Linked DNA regions of Homo sapiens. The protein of the gene in region 1 interacts with the protein of each later gene in a biochemical or structural test. Each region holds a gene or a part of one and is shown on either strand. Other genes may lie near its edges.

Region 1 (8,804 bases):
GAATTACACAGAACCTCTAAATAAAAAGGCAAAGTCTTCTCTGACCTATTCTACTTCTTTGTTATTTGGTAATTTTGCAATTAGAAGCTAAAAGGACCATAAAGTATCTTCCATCTGTAATTCTCAGAACAACTTGGACTGAACACTTTCTTATCTAATCTCAGAGTTTCCATATACAAAAGTAATTCTGTGAAAGATATTGGGGTAAGATTTCAAGTCTGATCATAATATAAGCAGTAGTGATACATAGTCTTTCTGAAGTTTCTGAAGCATAAAAAAAGCTAGAACATATTTGATTACACAAATCTGAAACATGGTGTTAAATGTTTCAAAATTCATCATTACAAGGCTATAAAATGTAACATCTTTTTTTTTTAAGGCAGTATTTCACATGAAGATTCCGAATATATAGAATTAAACTTTTTTCCTTTGGGAGCTCTCTCCAATTTTCAGTTTACTTAATCACCATAAGAGAGTTGGGAGGGCTTAGATCCTTGACCTTGTATACGATTCTTCAGCTCCCTAGGATGGCCTAAAGTTTCCTCATTTTTTTAATTAAGAGATTAAACAAGATGATCTTTAGAATATATTCTACCTTAAAACGGTCTGACCAATTCTCACAGTAGGTAACCTGAACTAGGTCATTTTCATCACCTAATTTTCATGTATCAGCAAACTCAAACAGGCGTGCATTTCAAAATCTTGCCATTTTGTCTTCCCTAGTATGGTACCTAAGATTTTAATGAACACATTTGCTGTGATTTCAACAAGGTAAAATTATTTTAAAATGTAGACATATCTAAGAGTATTACTTTTTAAAAGGTCCAAGTACGATCAATAAATTATATAAACAATCCTCTTATGTTCATATTCATATTCTGTACTCACCGGAACAGCAGCCATAAGTGTGGGCTTCAGTACAGTACAGTCTCCTTTGCTTCCTTTTTTAATTTTGCTGGACTATATTAAAGAAAAAATAAATATGATCAGGAAAACCAACCTTAAAACATGTTGTAATTCAAGTATTAATAACAAATACAGAAGTTACACTTGGAATTTGAGCTTTTATTGCTCTGTGATTATCTGTTAACAACTATCATAACCTACAAGTCTCAAATGTAAGTATTTTAGTGCTACAGATAACTGCTTCTAGCACATTTCACCTTCCTTAGAGGAGAAACCTTGATCCAGGATAACAAGAGAATGACATTGTGATGAATCAAACATTCTTATTAATAACATACTATCAAATATAGCACAGACTATTACTACATTTTCAAAAAAACTTGATTAAGACAGATATAACACTAAAACAAAATTGAAGGTGATTTTAACTTTCTTTGATTAACAATAGGCAAAGCCACATCCTGAAGACACCACTATGAACATCAATTAACATCATACTGAAACTCTAATTTGGTAATATTCTAGTTGGTAAGATACTGAGAACACTGCCAGGGACAAAGTAGAGATACACATAAATGTGCACAAATGGCCATATAGAGGATGGTTCTCCCGATAGAACTAAGTTGCCTTTCTCCTACTTTTCTTTAATATGGATAAAGGAGATAAAATAACTCATTTTACATATGTGCAAGGATGTGCACATTTGCAAGTGGAAACCTACACAGAAACCATGTACACCACACACAGGAGGGCTGCTCTGCAGAAACAAAATGGGCTCTCATGTCCTTCAGGTCGGAGTTGCCCTCTGCATGCTACTGACCAGCTCTTGCTACAGAGAGCAGTTCCAGGATAGCAGAAGCCACAAGAAGCCCTTCTTTGTTTTTTTTACTCTTAGTAATTTTATCAGTTATTTTGTCTTCTTGTGATCATAGTAATCCTGGTTATGACAATATTGCTATCATCAGTTGGCTCCAAATGTGGTGCTTCTAGTCTCCTGCATCCTTCTGATTTCCTATGTGAAGCAAGTTCCAGTGTTTTAGATTCCTAGTAAGATTGAGAGTCTTTACAGTAAAGTTCATTTAAAAAGTAGGTGTGAATTTTACTGAACAGGCTTCTAATGTACTAGCTTAGCCTAAGAGACAGCAAGAATTAAGTCAGACCAGCAACAGACTCCAACTGTCCCTCCTTTCCCACACTGAGGCTATTGTTCTCAGAAAGGCAGTGAAAAATCAAAGAACGGCTAGTCCTGGCTTCCAAATTCACAAAGGGAAAAAAAAATTATACTCAAAGTTTACTGAAATGTTTTCTACATTTTGATAATGTCTCTGAGCATAAGAAAAACCCATGACAACAAAACATAATGATCAGAGATTTTACTAAATTTGTTTTAGAGTTTAAGCCTTAGTCTTATTGATAGGTCTACTTTGATTTCACCAGGTCAAGTTCTGCTATCAATCGGATAGTGTATTTATTCATACCATTACTATTCTAGCAGATTTTAAGTGTGAATTTATAGCTGAGTGGTATAGTCAAACACAGCAGCACCCTGTCATACAAAGATTGTGTTTCTTAAAGTACAAAGCTAGGAGTTGTTTGGAACAGAATGCGTTCTCACAGAAAAAGCCACTTTAAAAGAAGGCTGGATTCTTCCTTCAAAGAGAATCCAATGTGGTAATGACCAGGAGGGGACCCAAGGGACATTCACGGGTGCTGAAAATGTTCTTTGTTTTCCTAATCTAGACGGTGATGATCACAGAGGTCTATATGTGTATATGCTTATTAAATCTCATCAAGCAGTACACTTAATATTTGTGCACTTTAAGTCATATATCAAAAAAAAAAAAAACACAAAGGTGATTGGAATCTCAAGTCCAAAAAAAACTATTTAACTTTTTTTGTTTTAATAGTATACAACCTATCTAGCCTCTCCCTAAAATGGTATTTCTACAAATAAAGTATTACAATTTCTAACTGTGAACACTGAGGACGTATCTTACCAACTACATGCTCCATGGAGACTCTCAAACAAAAGGCAGCATTGCCTGGTGGGGGGCGGTCTGAAAAACAACAGCTGGGCCCCCAGTGTTGGAGGAGCAGAGCCACGTATAGACAAGTCATTCCTACCTATACTTGCTTTGTCTTTCAGCATCCAGAACCCCACAGCTTCTTTAGTGGCTCTTTTTTTTTTTCCCCTAAGCCTGGTTGAAGCTTTTCTACAGCAACTATTCCAAAGAAGACATAAAACAGAACTGTGGACAATAGTATTAGGTGTGTAATTTCAAATGGGTATAACATATATGAGTTAGCCCCACCCATTGTTGGGATTTCTGCTATGAACTACAGAGAGAAGGAAGAATCCTAACTTAGTATGGTGAGCTGAGACTACCTTTGGAGATGCCTCAGCCCCTACCAATAGAACTTTCTGTGATGATAAAAATATTCTTTATCTTTGCTGCCTAATATGGTAGCCGTTGGTCACACGTAGCTATTGAGAGCTTGAAATGTGGCTAAAGCAAATAAAAAAATTTTTTTCAATTTTACTTAATTTTTTTTTTTTTGAGACGGAGTCTCGCTCTGTCGCCCAGGCTGGAGTGCAGTGGCGCGATCTTGGCTCACTGCAAGCTCCACCTCCCAGGTTCACGCCATTCTCCTGCCTCAGCCTCCCGAGTAGCTGGGACTACAGGCGCCCACCACCTCGCCCAGCTAATTCTTTTGTATTTTTTTAGTAGAGACGGGGTTTCACCATGTTAGCCAGGATGGTCTCAATCTCCTGACCTTGTGATCCACCCGCCTCGGCCTCCCAAAGTGCTGGGATTACAGGCATGAGCCACCGCGCCCGGCCCTTAATTTTTATTTAAATATCTGCCTAGTGGCTACTGTATCAGACGGTACTGCTCTAGAAAAATCTCGGGAAAACTGGGCCAAGACCCTAACATATCTCCTCCCAGAAACCCACCAATGCTCATGGGTAGTGTGTCAAAAAGGCTCATTGCATTTATATTCTCTATCGTAGTTCTCAAGAGTAAAAATCTAGTAGAAAAAGATAAAAGTAATTATTCATTTTTAAATAATTTTAAGGCTGGGCACAGTGGCTCACATCTGTAATCCCAGCACTTTGGGAGGCCGAGGCGGACAGATCACTGGAGGTCAGGAGTTCGAGACTAGCCTGGCCAACATGGCGAAACCCCATCTCTACTAAAAATACAAAAAAAATAGCAGGGCATGGTGGCGGGCGCCTGCAATCCCAGCTACTCTAGAGGCTGAGGCAGGAGAATCGCTTGAACCCGAGAGGCAAAGGTTGCAGTGAGCCAAGATCATACCATTGCACTCCAGTCTGGGTGACAGAGCAAAAGAAAAGAAAAAAAAAATAATTTTAAAATATATAGCTAAAGCAATGCTAACAAATCTACAGGGTAATCTCCTATAGCTACATATTGTTCATGGAAGCTATTTTGAGGTCAAGGAGAAAGCTTTAGCTGAATTAAAATATCTCGAGTCCTAGTAATATGTTCTCAGCCAAACCATGCAGCATCATACGATCATGCCAATATACTGAAAAGTTTGTCACCTGGTCAGAGAGTGTAAGCGGAGAAGAATATCCAATCCTGCAGCCATAGGTAAAGCAAGATATCTCTGCTGTCAGTTCTAGCACATGAGCCAAAGGCAAGTAGCCAATATATGTGTCCTTCGGTCTAAAACAAAATAAGAGAAATATTTTAACCATTCTTGAAAAGGCATTTGAAGTTAGAAATACCAAGAGCTTTATCATTTTAATATAGATTGAGTTTAGAGAATGCTGAACATGAACTCTGATTTCTAAGAAGAAAGTTAAAGAATTATCTTACCCCAGTCCAGGTATTCTTTCACACTGGCCTGTCATTCCAGCTATCAAATTGCTATGATGCATCATCACTCCCTTAGGTCGGCCAGTAGAACCACTAGTATACATAACAATGGCCATGTCTGAAGGCGTTGGTCTACTTGGAGGAATGCCCACTAAATGAATGAATGAAAAATATCACATTTACTTCAGTTCAAAAGTTAAATTACTAAAGAATAATAGGATATTTAGATTTTGCATAACGATAAGCTATCAATAGACAGTATTTGCTTTAAATCATCAAAACGAGCTGGGTGAGGTGGCTCATGCCTGTAATCCTAGTACTTTGAGAGGCCAAGGTGGGAGGATCACTTGAGCCCTGGATTTCGAGACCAGCCTGGCCAACATGGCAAGACTCTGTCGCTACAAAAACTAAAAAAGTTAGCCGGATGCAGTGGCATGCACCTGCAGTCCTTGCTACTCAAGAAGATAAGGCAGGAGGACTGGGTGAGCCTAGCAGGTTGAGGCTATGGTGAGCTATGGTCATACCATTGTGCTCCAGCCTGGGCTAGAAAACAAAAATGTTTATCAAATTCTGATTACAGTGAGCATTTTGGACTCAATTTGGCCCATTTTCTGGATGTTTAACCTAATCTCTGTCTGTGCATTGCCTCTCCACAGTGTTGTATACAGAGCAATGTTGTGGAAAGATTTCTGGGACTTTGGAGTATCAGGAGGACAGAGTATGTGTATAAACTTCTTAGGCCTCAGTTTCTCATCTCTAAAATAAGACAGCTGGACAGATTGTGGTTACTAACCACTAGTGGGTATCAGAATCACGTGCAGAACTTAAATAAAATATTATTTCTGAACCCCCTTTCTGAAAATTCAGATTCAATATGTCTGGGATAGAACAAAGCTCCACAAGTGATTCTCATATATGCCCCTGATTGAAAACCACTGGATCTGATCTTTAAGGTGACTTCAATGCTAACATTTGAAGGTGATAAGTTTTAAACAGAACCCTGGAGCTTCCACTTTCAAGACAGTGTATAGTGCTAGCCTAGTAACCACTTTTCCTTCCGAGAATATACCAAAATGGCTAAGAAGCCACATATATATCATCAGAATGAAATACAAGTTTAACAGGATTATCACATTTAAAAATCTTTACACAAATTATTTACATTTTTATATACCAGTTAAAATAACATTTTTTTAAAACAGTGAGCTATACCACTGAAACAAAGATAGTTACACTTAAACTGGCTAATTTTAATGCTTTTTAAAGATATAGTCATAGTTTATAAACCAAGCAAATAAGGACTGCATATTTCCTCTGATGATTAACCAAAGCAACAGCAGTAGCTAAATTCTTCTTAATCTAAGCACATGTGATACTTTGCTTCTGCCCACTTTTAAGTAAATATGCAAAAAAGTGGCATCACAATAACTGTCTGTACCACAAAAACATATGTATCCTATCTATTGCAGACATGAGTAGAACTAAGTGGGATATGTGGCCTATTACATTATTGCTCACACAAAATTATGAAGACTGCTGACCCCTTAGCTTGCTGCCAACACCCTTTGTGGTCAATCAGCAGAACTGTAACTGATCCCTACCAATCAGGACTTCTCAGTCAAGTTTATCCCAATCTTACAGGGTCAACCTAGTGTAGAAAAACAATTCTCTATGGGTCTCATGTTCTGCACATCTTGCAAGCAGAGACATTGACTTTGTTCCAGACTATCTTTACAAGGATATTTGCACAGAGATAGTGTCTCTCCCCAGAGCAAACAGCAGGCATGCTTACTGTCCAGTACAATAAGATAATAAGATATTCAGGCTCTTTAAGCTCAGAGTTCCTCTCTTATGACACAAATGCTGATATGATACTCTGGCTACTGCTATTGTTGTGAGTAAAAAACTGTCCCTCATCTCAGACCCAAAAGTCTATGGCACCAGGAAGTTTTGCAGGCTCATCTGTTTGCCGGCAAGCAGGGTAAAATCTGACTCTCTGCCATTCTGGACACATGGCAGATGTGTATAATAACACCTGTTATTATAAACGCATGCTCATTCTCTAATGGTAAAATGTTCAGAAGCTGAGTAGAGGTTCGACCAACATTTTCTCCTGCAAAAATGAATCCTTTTCTCATTATAGTATGGTATTTTGACCATCGCATTAAACATAATAAGAAAACTCTTCAAATGGAGTATTAATTTCCTCAACTCTCTGCCCTGATGGCCAACTGACATTTTGCTACAAGGTACACTTACTTGTTTCAAATGAAATACCAACTACCACCTCAGTGGTAAAATAAATCCAAGCATTAATCTTGGTAAACAGCTTTGCATCCTCTGAAACATCCTTAAGATAACTAGCATTAAGCATTTATTTCAGAAAGTTTACTGAATGGAAGGCCTGAAATATTTTTCTTTTATGAGGCCCAAATTGGAAGGTTATAGTGGGTTATTTAAAAAATGAAGAAACATTTGGCAGCAACTGCCATGAAGTCTGAACCACAGATTACATCTCAACCACTTAGTGAAATTTACTAACTTATTTTTTTTGAGGAGAAATGGAGGGAAAATCTTAATCATATATGGTCTTGATGGTTTTTAAAGATTTTTGAACTTTTTTTTTTCAGTCAAAGAACTTTTGTGGATTTACTCATGTCATTTGTTTCCCTAACCTACCAAAATAACAAACTTGGAATAGGTAAATAAAATTGTTTTTACTGCTTTACTTACAGTTTTCTGGGTTAGATCCCAACTCTTCTACTGATTGCATGCTGTGAATCTCAAATCCTTCAGGGTACTCTGCTTTATTGATAGCCTTATTGTCCACATAAATGATATGTTTAACACAACTGATATCTAACAATGCAGTCTGTTGAGCAGAAAGAAAAAAAAACAGCTATTAAACTTAAGCCTGCAACAAAAATTCACTTACTGAATGAATATTTTTCTGTCCTGCCAGACAACGCAACCATGAATTAAAAGAAAATTTCATATTTACCTTAAGTTTACTTTCCAGAAGTTCAACACTGGTAATCAGATAGGAAGCCTCAGATTCATTTAGCCCATGAACTACTGCTTCTTTGCCAAGTGTGGCATATAAAGTCACAACTACATAATAAAAATAAACACAAATATTAAGTAATAAACATCTATTAGAAATGGATATTATTGAAGTCAGTCTTTAATAATAGTTACACTTAGAGACACAAAGACATTGTATATTTTAATTTGATTTCATAGTCTCTGTTACCATCCTTCAACCTTGCTTCAAACTCCCTGGGAGCCCAAAGTTTTCCTTACAAATTCCCAGAACTCTCACTTCCTAAACCTGAAGAAACCCAGAAACACTCGCACTGCCACAGCTGATCAAAAATCTGTCAATTTAGATGCTCAAGGCCAATAGGTACTGGCTGAACTCTTAATTCAGGTCAGACTGGCCCAGCTAGGGCTTCTTCTTGATACACACTTTCATTGGCCATAGCCTCCAAAGAATGGATAAGTCCTTGAAAATCTTGAGGATCTTAAGTCATAAGATCAGCCACAGATAATGTTCTTACTCCTTCTAAGAAGCTGTTTTAGTGAGTCCAATGTCCAATGTGATTGGTGACCTCCACACCTTAATTAGAGAGATCAAGGAGATCTACTCCTTAGGAGCCACCAGAGATAACATAAACCAAGATCAGTTAGAATCAAAGGACATCTGCTAAACTTAGAAAGAACTGAAAATTCAGCTCTAGATTGGTAACCAGAAACAATGTGGTTAAAAATAGCCACTTTCACAAGCTGTTCATCGTTGAAAGTGGGTAATGGGTACATAGGGGATCATTTTCATATTATCTATTTTTTGTTTGAAATTTAAGCTCTATAATCCTAACTTACAGTGTTATATTTCATTCAACAAACAACAGAGTACTTAGTATGTGACAATACATTGTTTATTTCTTAAACAATGGCAACAACAAATGCTTGAGTATTAGAAATATACTCAATTTTACTTTCTAACATATCTAATGCCAATTCCAGCTGTCACATGCATATTTCACACGTAAA
Region 2 (5,031 bases), on another chromosome or scaffold:
TTGCTTGGACATGCTCTCAGGAAGATAAAAACCATGGAGAAACACTAGGCCATTGACAAATGATCTGAGACAACTTTAGAAAACAATGTAGGATGAATGGAAAGAGAAAGAAAGGAAAGAAAGAAGAAAAAGAAAGAAGGAAAGAAAGAAAGAGAAAGGAAGGAAGGAAAGAAGGAAGGAAAAGAAGGAAGGAAGGAAGGAATATAGTGTTATAAATACTGCACTCAACATTTTCCAAATTCTTGCCATTATTTTTCAAAAGTTTAATAGTTTGCAGAAATAGATACTCAAGCCAAAGTCTGTTTTAGAGAAACTTTCCATGGAAAGTCAGAATTTCTACCACTTCCTTTTCTATCCACATTTCCAGTGCAGAAGAAACTGAGAAACAGAGCTTTTTGAAGAGAGGACAGGGCCATAGCAACAAGGACCTTCTTGGGGGATTAATGGGAGGTCAGTAGAATTAATAACCCTCCTTGGATGAGTGCTACTGTTTTCACATGGCTTCAGATGCTATCAACCTCAAAGAAATGATCTCAACAGAGAAGCTTATTCTCTCCCAACTTCTACGGTAAAATCCAGGAGTATTTTCTCTGGGGATCTGCCCACAGGACAAAGTCCATAAAAGCAAGTCCTGTCTGGACCATGTGGTTATCTGAAGCATTAGCCATCACCAGCACAACAAACGGGGCAGGGCTTTCCAAGGTGGGGCTGGTCAGAAGGGAATCTTTGATAAGAGGCCCACAGGCAGGGAAAGCGAAATAGGGTTGATGAGACCAGGGGAGACCTAAAAAAAAGGCAGCTTTGTGTCTTCTAGCTCCAAATATACCTGCCTTTTAGCTCACACACTGTCCTGGAGTTCTCAGACCTTTAGGGGCCCTAACACAGTTCAGTTCATACAGGGGTTCAAAAGGGACAGTGGCCCATTTGGGAGACCTTTAGGATCAATGGGAATCAATTCCATTGTTTTGCCTCAGAGTAAAGTTTCTGGCTCGGGGACAATTATAAGTTGCAAAAAGGATAGAGGCATATCCCAAGTCTTCCTTCATTCCACAAATAATTACAAACAACCTACTGTGTGCCAGGCACTATTCTTAGCACTGGAAATACACTAGTGAAGAAGCAGATGAGGACCCTGTTTATTGTTTCTCTCCAAGAAATTCTCCAAGAATATTGTTTCTTGGAGAGAAATAATAAATAAACAAGACAATTTCTGAAAGCAATAAGTGCAATCAAGATAATTAAAGGATGCTAAAGTGTGACTTGTGGGGATTGGGAGAGAGATGCACAGACAATATTAAAGAGGAGGCATTCGAGCTTTGTTGTGAACACCGGAAGTAACATGCCGAGCGCCTGGGGGATGGAAACTCCTATAGCACCCCACAGGCTAACAGCAAGCAGGACAAGACAAAAAGGGCAGGTGGGACATGGTAGAGATGGACCCTACCCAGGAAACAGCTCCATCAGCATCTTAGCCTGCCCCACTCTAGCCACACATACCCACGTGTGCTCCTGAGTTCAGTGTGCCCACCTCACTCCCACACCCTCACATAGACTTGGCAAGAGTAAGGAGGGAACTCCATAGAGACATTTTACCTATCTCAGGGGAGCAGCCACAAAGAAGCAAGTCTTGTAAAAGGTCTTTTGCAAAGGAGAGTGAACCCAGCAATGAGAGATCCTTAACAGCTAGTGCCCATTAGGGGGCTAAACCTAAAGCCTGGGTGGTGATGGCTCAAACGCTAATGAGTCAGTGAATCCTTACCGACCCCCTGGCCTTTATAATCTGAGGCAACTTTGGCTGCAGCCCGGGAATGTGCAGGGCACTAGGGAATACAAGGCCTTCTTCCCTGGTTGTCTTGTAATAAAACAGCCATGGGGTTGTCCCTCCAGTCCGAGAGACTGTGATGAGGCCTACATAGCAGCGATGTGGTCAGGTAAAAATCAGGAACCCACTGAAATCTTGGGCAAGCCACCCTGCCTGCTTGTGCCTCGGTTCTCTCATATGTCATATATAGGAGGTGAGGACTCCAGCTCCACCTGCCCCAGGTGGGTGTGGTGATGATGAGGAAAGACAAGAGGCTTGCAAGGACCCTGAAGAGGTCGGAGCATCATACAGATTCCTTTATTAGCCCACATTCTGATGTTCCCTGGTGAGACTTGCCCCAAGCAATTGCTAGTAAATGGGGGTTAATTTCTTCTCCACCTCCCTACTGAACAAAAAAAGAAATGCCAGACTTACTAGGAGAATCGAGTTGCTTTGAGTTTCTTTTGTTTTGTTTTGTTTTGTTTTGTTTTAAGGCTCCCCTTACACACCCTCCTTTAAGCTTTGGGTTTTCTCTCTTATAGTTTGTTGACACATGCTAAAAATGTCTTTGGAGAGAACTTCTGCCTGATAAACACCCAATTCTAGACTGTGGGTGGATTTTCGAGCTGACGGTGGTCAATTCCTTTCATTAAGCAGTGATCTGATTTCTCCACATGGCCATTCTGCCTTCTTGGGGGCAGAGTAGATGGGCAGCAGTTCACCTTTTCAGAGAAAGAGGTCTTCTAGCCACCTGGGCTGCTACTGAATGGTTTTCTCCAGGACGCTCTACCTAATGATTATTTCTATAACATTAAGCATGGTAATAAGTAGCTTCCAATTCAATTCATCCTAAAGCCAAAGAAAATACAGCAACACACACACACACACACACACACACACACACACACACACACACACACCACTTTATGGCAATTCTTAACTGACATTCAATGACTTACTTCTTTTCTTAGAAAATTTCCACCACATTTCTATCCCCAAGCCAACATACAATGTGAAATGAAAGCCAGTGCGTGGAGTGCAGCTGCTAAAAATTTTCAGCACAGGGCTCTTTCTGACTCTGCTCATGAGATGGTATCAGCCACCCAATGACTGGCGTATCTTGGTCCTGTGTCTTTCTTCTTACGCTGTGTTAATGTGTTTACTTTCCATTTGGCAGAGAGACAAGAGAGACACCTCCAACTTCGACAAAGAGTTCACCAGACAGCCTGTGGAACTGACCCCCACTGATAAACTCTTCATCATGAACTTGGACCAAAATGAATTTGCTGGCTTCTCTTATACTAACCCAGAGTTTGTCATTAATGTGTAGGTGAATGCAAACTCCATCGTTGAGCCTGGGGTGTAAGACTTCAAGCCAAGCGTATGTATCAATTCTAGTCTTCCAGGATTCACGGTGCACATGCTGGCATTCAACATGTGGAAAGCTTGTCTTAGAGGGCTTTTCTTTGTATGTGTAGCTTGCTAGTTTGTTTTCTACATTTGAAAATGTTTAGTTTAGAATAAGCGCATTATCCAATTATAGAGGTACAATTTTCCAAACTTCCAGAAACTCATCAAATGAACAGACAATGTCAAAACTACTGTGTCTGATACCAAAATGCTTCAGTATTTGTAATTTTTCAAGTCAGAAGCTGATGTTCCTGGTAAAAGTTTTTACAGTTATTCTATAATATCTTCTTTGAATGCTAAGCATGAGCGATATTTTTAAAAATTGTGAGTAAGCTTTGCAGTTACTGTGAACTATTGTCTCTTGGAGGAAGTTTTTTGTTTAAGAATTGATATGATTAAACTGAATTAATATATGCAAGCTCTTGTTTATATGTCTTTTCTTAAATAGACTATGTTACAGAGGTTACAGACTGAAGATCCAGTTTGTAGCCATTAGATAAGCTTAATTTTACTCACATGGAATTTTACTTAATCAAAACCATTGTGAACATGACAAAATAAGATACTTTATATAAATTCCTGGACTTTTAGATTCCCTTGAAAAAAGAAACAAAAGACTAGCAGCTCTGAGCCTGTATTTCCACATGGAAATAATTCTACAGAACTGAGAAATGCTTCTCCTTTAAAAGCAGTGTATGTTCTCATTTTGCCACAGTCTCCACCACCCCCTATTGTCTTATACCCTCCATCCACTTCCCTGGCTGCTATAGCCACTTGAGGTTGAAACCTCTGTCATTCGTGAGTCACAGGTTTGAGGACCTTAATATTTTCTTGTGCCCCTAATCAGGGTATGTGTGCAGCCACCCACTCAATGTGATTCGTGTTTATTAAGCTATGTATCAAGCACAAGATATGTAAGATTTTATTCCAGCCATGACAAAAGTCAGGAAAGAGGCTGGTGTCAGTGCAGAGAGAATCCTTTGTTTGTTGTCCATGAGGATGTTGCTATTTGTAAAACGACTTACCTTTGACTTATATTCTCCTAATTTAGCTAAGCACCTGCCAAAAAAAGAGGGGGGGGAGTATAAGCCATTTTTTTTTTCAACCGCTTGTCCAGGGAGGCCCAAGAGAAGAGGGAGAAATAAGGGAGACTGCTTCTAAACCCTGCTGGCATGATAAGGACCCGCACTCTCTCAGAGCAGAGTGGCACAGTACTGAGTCACTGGGTGTCAATCTAATACCTTCTTCTCTGAATGAAGTCATGCTTCTATTTTCTTTTCAAAAGATATAGTAATCCAATCTGTAGCACATGCCTTTGTAGCTGCTAAGGCTAGTGGGTAGCAGAAAAGAGCAAATGTGTTCACACTATGTACATTATGACTCTCTACAGAGTGTATTCATCTCTTCCCTTCTTGAAAGAGCCTCAGTAAATGGAGCATTGGAAAGATACAGTGAATCCATTGATCTTACCTAGTGCACTAATCTTTGCAGAATTTTAGAAAGTCTGCCAGTTAAAGTTGGCTGAAGCCCATTTAAACTTCAGGAAGAAACAGTGTTCTAGGCATCACATTTAGAAAACAAAAATACCTGGGATTCTACAGATGTTTGAACATGCATCCCATTTAAGACAGTATTATATAGAAGAGGTTACCATTGCTGCCTCTTATTCCTCCTCATTCCATGCCAGCTTCTCAAACTTTCCCCCTCTGCCAGATATAAACCCATCTTTCATTTAATAAATATTGAGCCCCGACTCTGAGCCAAGCACAGTTCTGGATACTGGTGTTATAGAGACCAATAAGATAGTTCAGGACTCCCCA

What was found. The genes of interacting proteins can lie anywhere in the genome.
Region 2: of the proteins of ACSL4 (region 1) and PRKCB, one has a biochemical effect on the other in vitro, tested with the Homo sapiens proteins (one study listed by BioGRID).

The regions. Positions count from the first base shown.
Region 1 is NC_000023.11:109,673,514-109,682,317, forward strand, and holds part of ACSL4 (long-chain-fatty-acid--CoA ligase 4), read right to left. Parts: intron 7,863-8,804; coding exon 7,753-7,862; intron 7,624-7,752; coding exon 7,485-7,623; intron 4,903-7,484; coding exon 4,752-4,902; intron 4,599-4,751; coding exon 4,475-4,598; intron 961-4,474; coding exon 889-960; intron 1-888. UniProt on the Homo sapiens protein: Catalyzes the conversion of long-chain fatty acids to their active form acyl-CoA for both synthesis of cellular lipids, and degradation via beta-oxidation. Preferentially activates arachidonate and eicosapentaenoate as substrates.
Region 2 is NC_000016.10:24,216,983-24,222,013, forward strand, and holds the end of PRKCB (protein kinase C beta type), read left to right. Parts: 3' UTR 1-2,978; coding exon of another isoform or gene 2,979-3,131; 3' UTR 3,132-3,629; downstream 3,630-5,031. UniProt on the Homo sapiens protein: Calcium-activated, phospholipid- and diacylglycerol (DAG)-dependent serine/threonine-protein kinase involved in various cellular processes such as regulation of the B-cell receptor (BCR) signalosome, oxidative stress-induced apoptosis, androgen receptor-dependent transcription regulation, insulin signaling and endothelial cells proliferation.